Linked DNA regions of Homo sapiens: regions 1 and 2 are each linked to region 3. Evidence: fine-mapped expression QTL. A gene starts in region 3. Each other region holds a variant in brackets. All regions are shown on one strand. Distances are between the middles of the regions.

Region 1 (2,664 bases), 38 kb before region 3:
GGTACAGGCAACATTCTATAATGTTCTATTCCTTCAGCCGGGTTGTACTTAGATGAGTATGTTCATTTAGAGATAATCATTGAACTGGTATAATCCAATTTCAAATGTGTATTAAATATATTTGTGTAGTTCAAACACTACACATAGCAATAAAAAACAATTTTATCCACATATCAAACTAAGTAAATCTTGGAAATTGTGTTGAATGAAAACACATAGATAGAGATTAAAAATTTTGTAAATTATTTTAAAATGCTATATATTTTTATATAGATAAATATATGTAGTAAAGGTATAACTTCTGAATAAGAAGAGTATGTACCAATTTCAGATAACTCCATAGTTATCTATGGAGCAGTAGGGAAGGGAAGACTATAAAAGAGGACTCAATGATATATGCAACCTTTTATTTCTTAAAACATTCTTAAGTAAATATGGCAAACTGTCAACATTTGTTAAATTTGGCTGGAGGGTATATGGATGTTTGTTATATTTGCTGTAATTTTCTATATAAAAGATTTCATAATTATTTGTTTTTAATACTGCAAATATGTTCTCATGTTATCAGATATTCTGAAATAGCAAATTTTAAAGACTTATTTTTACTATTATAAATATTACTATAATAAACATCCTTGCCTTAAATACTTACTGTATCTGTAATTTCTTTTTTTATTATTATACTTTAAGTTCTAGGGTACATGTGCACAACATGCAGGTTTGTTACACAGGTATACATGTGCCATGTTGGTTTGCTGCACCCATCAACTCGTCATTTACATTAGGTATTTCTCCTAATGTTATCCCTCCCCCAGCCCCCTACCCCACAACAGACCCCAGTGTGTGATGTTCCCTGCCCTGTGTCCAAGTGTTCCCATTGTTCAGTTCCCACCTATGAGTGAAAACATGCAGTGTTTGGCTTTCTGTCCTTGGGACAGTTTGCTGAGAATAATGGTTTCCAGCTTCATCCGTGTCTCTGCAAAGGACATGAACTCATCATTTTTTATGGCGGCATAGTATTCCATGGTGTATATGTGCCACATTTTCTTAATCCAGCCTATCATTGATGGACATTTGGGTTGATTCCAAGTCTTTGCTATTGTGAATAGTGCCACAATAAACATATGCATGTGTCTTTATAGTAGCATGATTTATAATTCTTTGGGTATATACCCAGTAGCGGAATCGCTGGGTCAAATGGTATTTCTAGTTCTAGATCCTTGAGGAATTGCCACACTGTCTCCCACAATGGTTGAACTAATTTATACTCCCAACAGTGTAAAAGCATTCCTATTTCTCCACATCCTCTCCAGCATCTGTTGTTTCCTGA[C/CT]TTTTTTTTTTTTTTTTGAGTTGGAGTCTCACTCCGTCACCCAGGCTGAAGTGCAGTGGTGCAATCTTGGCCCACTGCAAGCTCCACCTCCCAGGTTCACACCATTCTCCTGCCTCAGCCTCCCAAGTAGCTGGGATTACAGGTGCCTGCCACCACGCCTAGCCAATTTTTTTGTTTTTTTAGTAGAGACGGGGTTTCACCATGTTAGCCAGGATGGTCTCGATCTCCTGACCTCGTGATCTGCCCATGTCAGCCTCCCAAAGTGCTGGGATTACAGGCATAAGCCACCACGCCCGGCCTTCCTGACTTTTTAATGACTGCCATTCTAACTGGTGTGAAATGGTATCTCATTGTGGTTTTGATTTGCATTTCTCTGATGACCAGAGATGATGAGCATTTTTTGATGTGTCTGTTGGCTGCATAAATGTCTTCTTTTGAGAAGTGTCTGTTCATATTCCTTGCCCACTTCTTGATAGGGTTGTTTGTTTTTTTCTTGTAAATTTGAGTTCTTTGTAGATTCTGGATATTAGCCCTTTGTCAGATGGGTAGATTGCAAAACTTTTCTCCCATTCTGTAGGTTGCCTGTTCACTCCAATGGTACTTTCTTTTGCCGTGCAGAAGCTCTTTAGTTTAATTAGATCCCATTTGTCTATTTTGGCTTTTGTTGCCATTGCTTTTGGTGTTTTAGTCATGAAGTCCTTGCCCATGCCTATGTCCTGAATGGTATTGCCTAGGCTTTCTTCTAGGGTTGTTATGGTTTTAGGTCTAAGATTTAAGTCTTCAGTCCATCTTGAATTAATTTTTGTATAAGGTGTAAGGAAGGCTTTCAATTTCAGCTTTCTACATATGGCTAGCCGGTTTCCCCAGCAACATTTATTAAATAGGGAATAGTTTCCCCATTTCTTGTTTTTGTCAGGTTTGTCAAAGATCAGATGGTTGTAGATGTGTGGTGTTATTTCTGAGGTCTCTGTTCTGTTTCATTGGTCTATATATCTGTTGTACCAGTACCATGCTGTTTTGGTTACTGTAGCCTTGTAGTATAGTTTGAAGTTGGGTAGCGTGATGCCTCCAGCTTTGTTCTTTTTGCTTAGGATTGTCTTTGCAATACAGGTTCTTTTTTTGGTTCCATATGAACTTTAAAGTAGTTTTTTCCAATTCTGTGAAGAAAGTCAGTGGTAGATTGATGGGGATAGCATTGGATCTATAAATTACCTTGGGCAGTATGGCCATTTTCACGATATTGATTCTTCCTACCTGTGAGCATGGAATGTTCTTCCATTTGTTTGTGTCCTCTTTTATTTCGTTGAGAAGTGGTTTGTAGTTCTCCTTGAAAA
Region 2 (2,664 bases), 65 kb after region 3:
ACCATGAGGTAGGGAAACCTGCATGGGTGGAACGGCATGACGGCCGCCTGCGTAAAGCTAGCGGGAGATGAGATAACCTCCTAAGCCGCCTTTCAGCCTGAGGCCCCAGGTGGATTAACACCAAGTCTGCAGGCTGAAAGCAGTGTTCACACTCCACGCTGTCCTCCAGGTTGGGAGGGATGGAGAGGAGGAAGGAGGGGAAGAGGATGGGCCCCTTCCACACTACCTCCCCCAGCTAGCTGTCAGAGACAGTACAGGACACACGCATCTCCACCAGCCTGCTCTCCTCCCACTGGATAGAGCTCCACCTGCATCCAGGTTTGCACCGGCAAGGTCAGGGCAGCAGCAGCTGCTAGGAAAGTCAGGACACTGTTTCAATACTTAGGAGAGCCACCTTCACCCCAGGTATCACGGGACAGTCATGGGGCTGCTTTAGCCCAGTGCCCCCTCCTGTGTGCAGAGAGCCAAGATCCAACAACATGTCATCATCATTATCAGGATCATAATCACATTACCCTCAATGCATCCTTGGGTGGGAGGGAGGAGAGGAAGAGGAGGAAGAAGGCAGAGGAGGGCCCATGAAGAGCAAGGAGGGAGAATAAAGCTCCTCTGCATTCTGGAAGTGGGAGAAGTGAGAAGGCGGTGTGCAGGGTGATCCTCCCAGGCCTGTGTCTGCTTTGGACCAGATGCTCCAGCCCCTTGTTCAGCTGTGGATACCGACAGAAGGGCTGGCAGACAGGACGCCTGGGGCCTGAGCTTGGTGCTGCATTCTACACTGATTGACAGGGTGAGCTCACCAGCTCTTATTCTATGCTGACTGACAGGGTGACAGCTCAGGAGGCTCTTCCCAGAGTCTCAGTTTCCCCCATGGCTCCTGTACACCAGCCAGAGCATCGAAGATGGACCTGAGTTTTGCTCTAGAGTCTAAGGACAGCAAAACACAGGCAGACTCTTTCCTAGAGAGACAGTCCACTTCAGACAGCTCTGATGAGGGAGTGGAAACATTACTCTTAGGGCCTAATTAAATCAGGCCATCTCTGGAGAAGATCTAGGACCACAGACCAGCAGCATCAACTGGGAGCTTGCTAGGAATGCAGACTCTCAGGCCGCCACTAGGCCTGAAGAATTGTAATAAGGAGGTCCCCAGATGATTCATGCCCATTAAAGTGTGCAAAGCCCTGCTCTTGGATAGTAGATGGCAGAATGTGGTTCCCCCAGGCACACCACCATCACCTGGGAGCTTGTCAGAAATGCAGAACCTCAGGTCCCACCCTGACATTTTGAGCAGTTTTGAGCAGGAATCTGCCCTTTGCCCAGGCCCCAGGGTATTCGAGTGAGCAGCACTGCTCCAGGGCCCTGAGGGCCGGCAGCTTCCAGGAGTTCTGATTTCTCTTTGCTCCTCTGCTCTCTCCACCTGGCAGATCTGCGGGATGGTTCTCACCTGCTGCTTGCACCAGAGGCTCCAGCGGCATTTTTACTAATGGCCAACCACCTCCTCTTCCAACTGCCCCTCAAGACAACATGTGGCCACATGCCATCTGCAAGGCCTGCAGAGTTAGCACCAGCTCCACTAGGGCCATAGATGCCCCCTCCTTTGTGCCTAGCTCCTGCGAATCCACCGAGTGCCTGAGACCATAGCTTCTGTGCCCACCCAGGCAG[A/G]GACCCTCGGCCCCCTCTCCTCCATTTCTGAGCCCCCATGGCCAGATCCTGGGCAGGGAAATGATCCTTTCAGGAGACAACCAGAGCCCCTCACCAGGAACGGGGGCACCCGTGGACTACGGGAGGGTGGCGGTTGGGTTCTCTGCTCCCTCCCAGCTCCTGAACCTGGAACAATCGGCAGAAAACCCAGGAACCCCGGCACTCCTGCATTCAGCACGGGATTCCCCCACCCATGCCCAGAAGCCCTGACCTTGCTGTTTCTGGAAAAAGCATGGGGTGGGGCAGGGAGGGCTGGCATTTCCCCCAGAAGACCTTGCCCTTTGACCTGCCCACTCTCCACACTGCCTCACCTGGAAAGCCATGTCCTGCTGGCCTCATTCCTTCCTGAAGGGCCTAGGAGTGGGGAGGCCTGGGTAGGGCAGCCACAGGCTGGGTAGAGCCGCCCTGGCAGGAAGCAGGGGGTAAGGTGGCCATACCAGCACATGCTGCACTAGGAGCAGAGCCCTGCACCTGCCTAGCTGCCTTCCTGGGAGAAACCTCCCTGGGAGACCATGGCCCCAAGCCCTGGCCTCTAGTGATACGCCCCTCGGGAATCTCCTGTTCCGGGGCCTGATTCTCAGGAACACCAGGTTTCAGACCATCTTCAGCACCTAATGTTGATGGGTGTCAAACATCTCCTGGAGTGGACCAACTCGCAACCCTGCAAAGTCGGAGCTGCTGAGAAGGGGCAGCTCTGAATAGAGGGGCATCTGCCTGAACCTCACTTTTCCTGGGGCCCTCTCCTTGACCCCGTAGCCACCACCACACTGCTTCCAGGGGGTCCAGCTCTGCTTCCCTTCCCACCTGTCCTAGAGTGGACAGAGCTTTTTCCTTGGGTTCTCTCTTGCATCACTAAGTTCAGCAGGGAATTTGCGGAATTTTCAGGAAGAACTTTCCCCAGTAATAAGGGAGAACAGAAAGAAAATCCTAGAAAATACAGAGTATCCATGCTGGCAGCTTTTTGTA
Region 3 (2,664 bases):
GGATATCTGCCCCTGGAAGAAGGTGGCCTGCTTCTCCAATCCAACTTGCTCCACACTAAACTCAGTCACATCACTCCAGGTTCTCCTCCAGACTTCCACAATGTTACAGCCCCAGTGTGCTCCTCCTACACCACACAGTCTGTAGACTCTCCTTTGCTGCAGCTTCCGCATTCATCCCCCAGTTAAGGTCCTCATCTCACGGGACTATTGGAATCATCTCCTTCCTGTGTGGCCCCCCGCGAAGCCCTTCTCAGCAGCCAGCTGGGGTATTTAGAACGTTGGTGCTCCCGGTACAGTGGCTTTGTCAGCGTCCCCTGCCTCCAGTGGCTTCCCTGATCTAGCAACCTGGTAAATGGGTAATCTTCCTCACTGCAGCTAAGTTTCAAAAGAACACGGTTGGATAAGCACAAGGCCCTTGTTACTTTGGGAAATAGATAATCCATGCCCCACTGTTAGGGCCAGTCCCGTTAGGGCCAGCTTTGCACCTTCACAGGGACTCAGCAGGAACAGATGGGCTCTACTCTCTGTTATTCCTTTTTGCTTCAGATTAGAGAGACCTTGATTCTCCCCGGGGCCCAGGAAATGTAAAGCTGATGCTCCACAGGACTCTAAGAGGGACACGGCAGTGATGGGGGCTGGTGAGGAAGGGGGATGGAGAACCTCTCTCTTATCAGACAGGCTTGTCCCTAGGGTCCCTGGAAACCCCCAAAGGCCAACCTCTCCCAGGGGCCGACAAACGTAAAGGGCAGGGAGACCTAAGCGGGGAGCTGCGGAGCGCGGGGAGTTTGAAAGCCGCTCCACCGCCCTACTAGTCCGTCCTTTTGCCCCGCCCCCCTTAGGGATCCCCCCGGCAACCGCACAGCTGCCTCGGACTCTGACTTAATTCCCTCCGCGTGCTCTGAATCGCAGAGAGGCAAACCCCCAAACAAAGAGCCGGCAGCTCGCGTGCGGGGCTCCCGGGCGCGTCCTGCCGGCTGGGCTGGGAGAGCCGGCGCCGGGGCGTCGCGGCCGAGCGCTGGGCAGGCGGGGACTAGAGGGCCGGCAGGAAGCCTCAGTGGGCGCAGGGGCGCGGGCCGGGCTGCCCACACGCTGACCTTCCCGGGCTGGGAGGGAGGAGCGCTGGCTGCGGGCGGTGGGCGGCTGGGCGGCCCCGGGAGCCGCCGCTCTCAGTCTCTCTAGGCGCAGCTCCCTTCGCCGCTTCCGGAGCCCCTGGCAGGGTAAGTGCAGAAGCGCGCCCGAGGAGTGGGGGCGCCGCGGGAGGGGGCTGGGGGTCCAGGAGAGGCGCCTCCACCTCCGCTGCCCGCCCCGCCGGCAGTCCCGAGCTAGACTGTCCCGAGCTTCCCCCGGGCGGGCAGAGGGAAGCCGGCTGGGGATGAGGAGTGGAGGAGGCAGGAATGCCTGGGACACTCGCGGGGCATGTGAGCAGGTATTGGTGTCTGCATGGGACACGCAACACGGTGTCCATAACTATGCGCATGAGTCTGCCTTTCTGCACTTGTGCCTTGGGAGAGAGCTCTGGGCCTCTGAGGGCCTCGTGCCGTCCAGCGTGCCCGGGGCATGTCTGTTCCTCTTGAAAATGTCATTCTTTGTCCACCCTGAATTCGAGTAGCTGCCTCTCATGGCTACACCAAAATGCTGTATCTGGTGCACATTGCTTTCAGAGGGCCTGTCTGCCTGTGCAGGGATGTCCTCATGTTCTGGGCACGTCTGTGTATTTGTGACAACATGGCTGTGTAGGCCCTGTCACCTGTGTTTTCGTGCCCATCCCTGCATGTGCAGTTGGCCGGCTCCGTGTGGAAAGAAGGCATGGAAGGTTCTGGGGTGTATCCTTTTCACCAGCCATATGTGCAGTGTGCACATGTGTGAATTGGTGGAAAGTATGAAAGGGAGGCAGCCCAGTTGGGCTTGGCGGGACAGCATCTTAACTTGAGTCTAAGCTGCTGTGTGCAGGAGGAATAAGTGTTCCAGAGGTCTCCAGTTCGTGGCAAGTATTGTGAGGTGAGCGTGGGGGTGGGGGGTGAGGAGAAGAGGCAGCTTCTGGAAAAACTCATAAGTGCACTCTGGGGCATAGGGTGTGTGTGGGGGAGCGTGAAGAAGAGAATGAGGGTGGTATTAGGCCAAAGTGGATAGTCTGTGTTCAATTTGTGGGCAGCTGGATTGCAGTGGAAAGCAGCAGTTAGAGGCTGGAGACAGGTTTGAATCAGAACTTAATGGTTGTCACTGTGTCAGTAGCATTGTTCCCTGGACAGATAGGTCATCTGGGGCTCAGTTGCTTTTTGTGCAAAATGGGACTAATAACCACTGGCCCCATCTGTCTCCCAAGGGACTGGAGGCTCCAATTAATGCCTGGAAATGCTTTGATGATAGTTAAGACTCCTAGGGTAAGGGGCACTACTGGCCTACAGGGGCCAAGTTGGTGGTCTGGCGAGGGCTTAGGTGGCCCAGAGCTGTTTGGTTTGTGGGTAGCAGAGGGAGGCATTTGTGTGCTGTTTCCCACTATATTCAGCATAGCAGGAATTTTATACCCACCTTTGGACTCGTGTGTAAAATATGTACAGGCCTGTGTGATTCCCCATAGTTCTTGTGTGAGTGCTGCAGAACAAGAGGAAAACTGGCGTTGATGTCTTTAAGTCTGCCTAGAGCACCTTGACTTTCCAGAGAGCC

Alleles and levels. Positions count from the first base shown, and alleles are read on the strand shown. Sizes are in standard deviations (SD) of each study's normalised expression. Not every link is listed here.
In carriers of allele C in region 1, the expression in prefrontal cortex of the gene that starts at base 1,169 in region 3 tends to be lower than with CT alone (large effect, 1.0 SD a copy in ROSMAP).

The links. PIP is the estimated chance that this variant, and not a neighbour inherited with it, causes the effect. A credible set is the group of variants that fine-mapping cannot tell apart.
Region 1: its variant is the best candidate, but not a certain one, in a credible set for the expression of TSPAN11 in prefrontal cortex (ROSMAP, PIP 0.84).
Region 2: its variant is the best candidate, but not a certain one, in a credible set for the expression of TSPAN11 in putamen (Braineac2, PIP 0.80).

What each region holds. Positions count from the first base shown.
Region 1 is chr12:30,888,015-30,890,678 of GRCh38, forward strand. No RefSeq gene overlaps it. Among named protein-coding and RNA genes, the nearest start is that of TSPAN11, 37 kb to the right of the region's middle. The variant C/CT (reference allele first, on the strand shown) is at 1,331.
Region 2 is chr12:30,990,435-30,993,098 of GRCh38, forward strand. TSPAN11 (tetraspanin 11) reads left to right here. Exons shown (of 8, transcript NM_001370302.1): 8 at 1,422-2,664. The coding sequence ends at 1,481. All of the region lies in intron 2 of TSPAN11-AS1 (TSPAN11 antisense RNA 1), which reads right to left. Among named protein-coding and RNA genes, the nearest start is that of TSPAN11-AS1, 14 kb to the right of the region's middle. The variant A/G (reference allele first, on the strand shown) is at 1,660.
Region 3 is chr12:30,925,580-30,928,243 of GRCh38, forward strand. It overlaps TSPAN11 (tetraspanin 11), which reads left to right and starts at 1,169. Exons shown (of 8, transcript NM_001370302.1): 1 at 1,169-1,217. It overlaps LOC124902911 (a long non-coding RNA gene), which reads right to left and starts at 1,110. Exons shown (of 2, transcript XR_007063264.1): 1 at 1-1,110.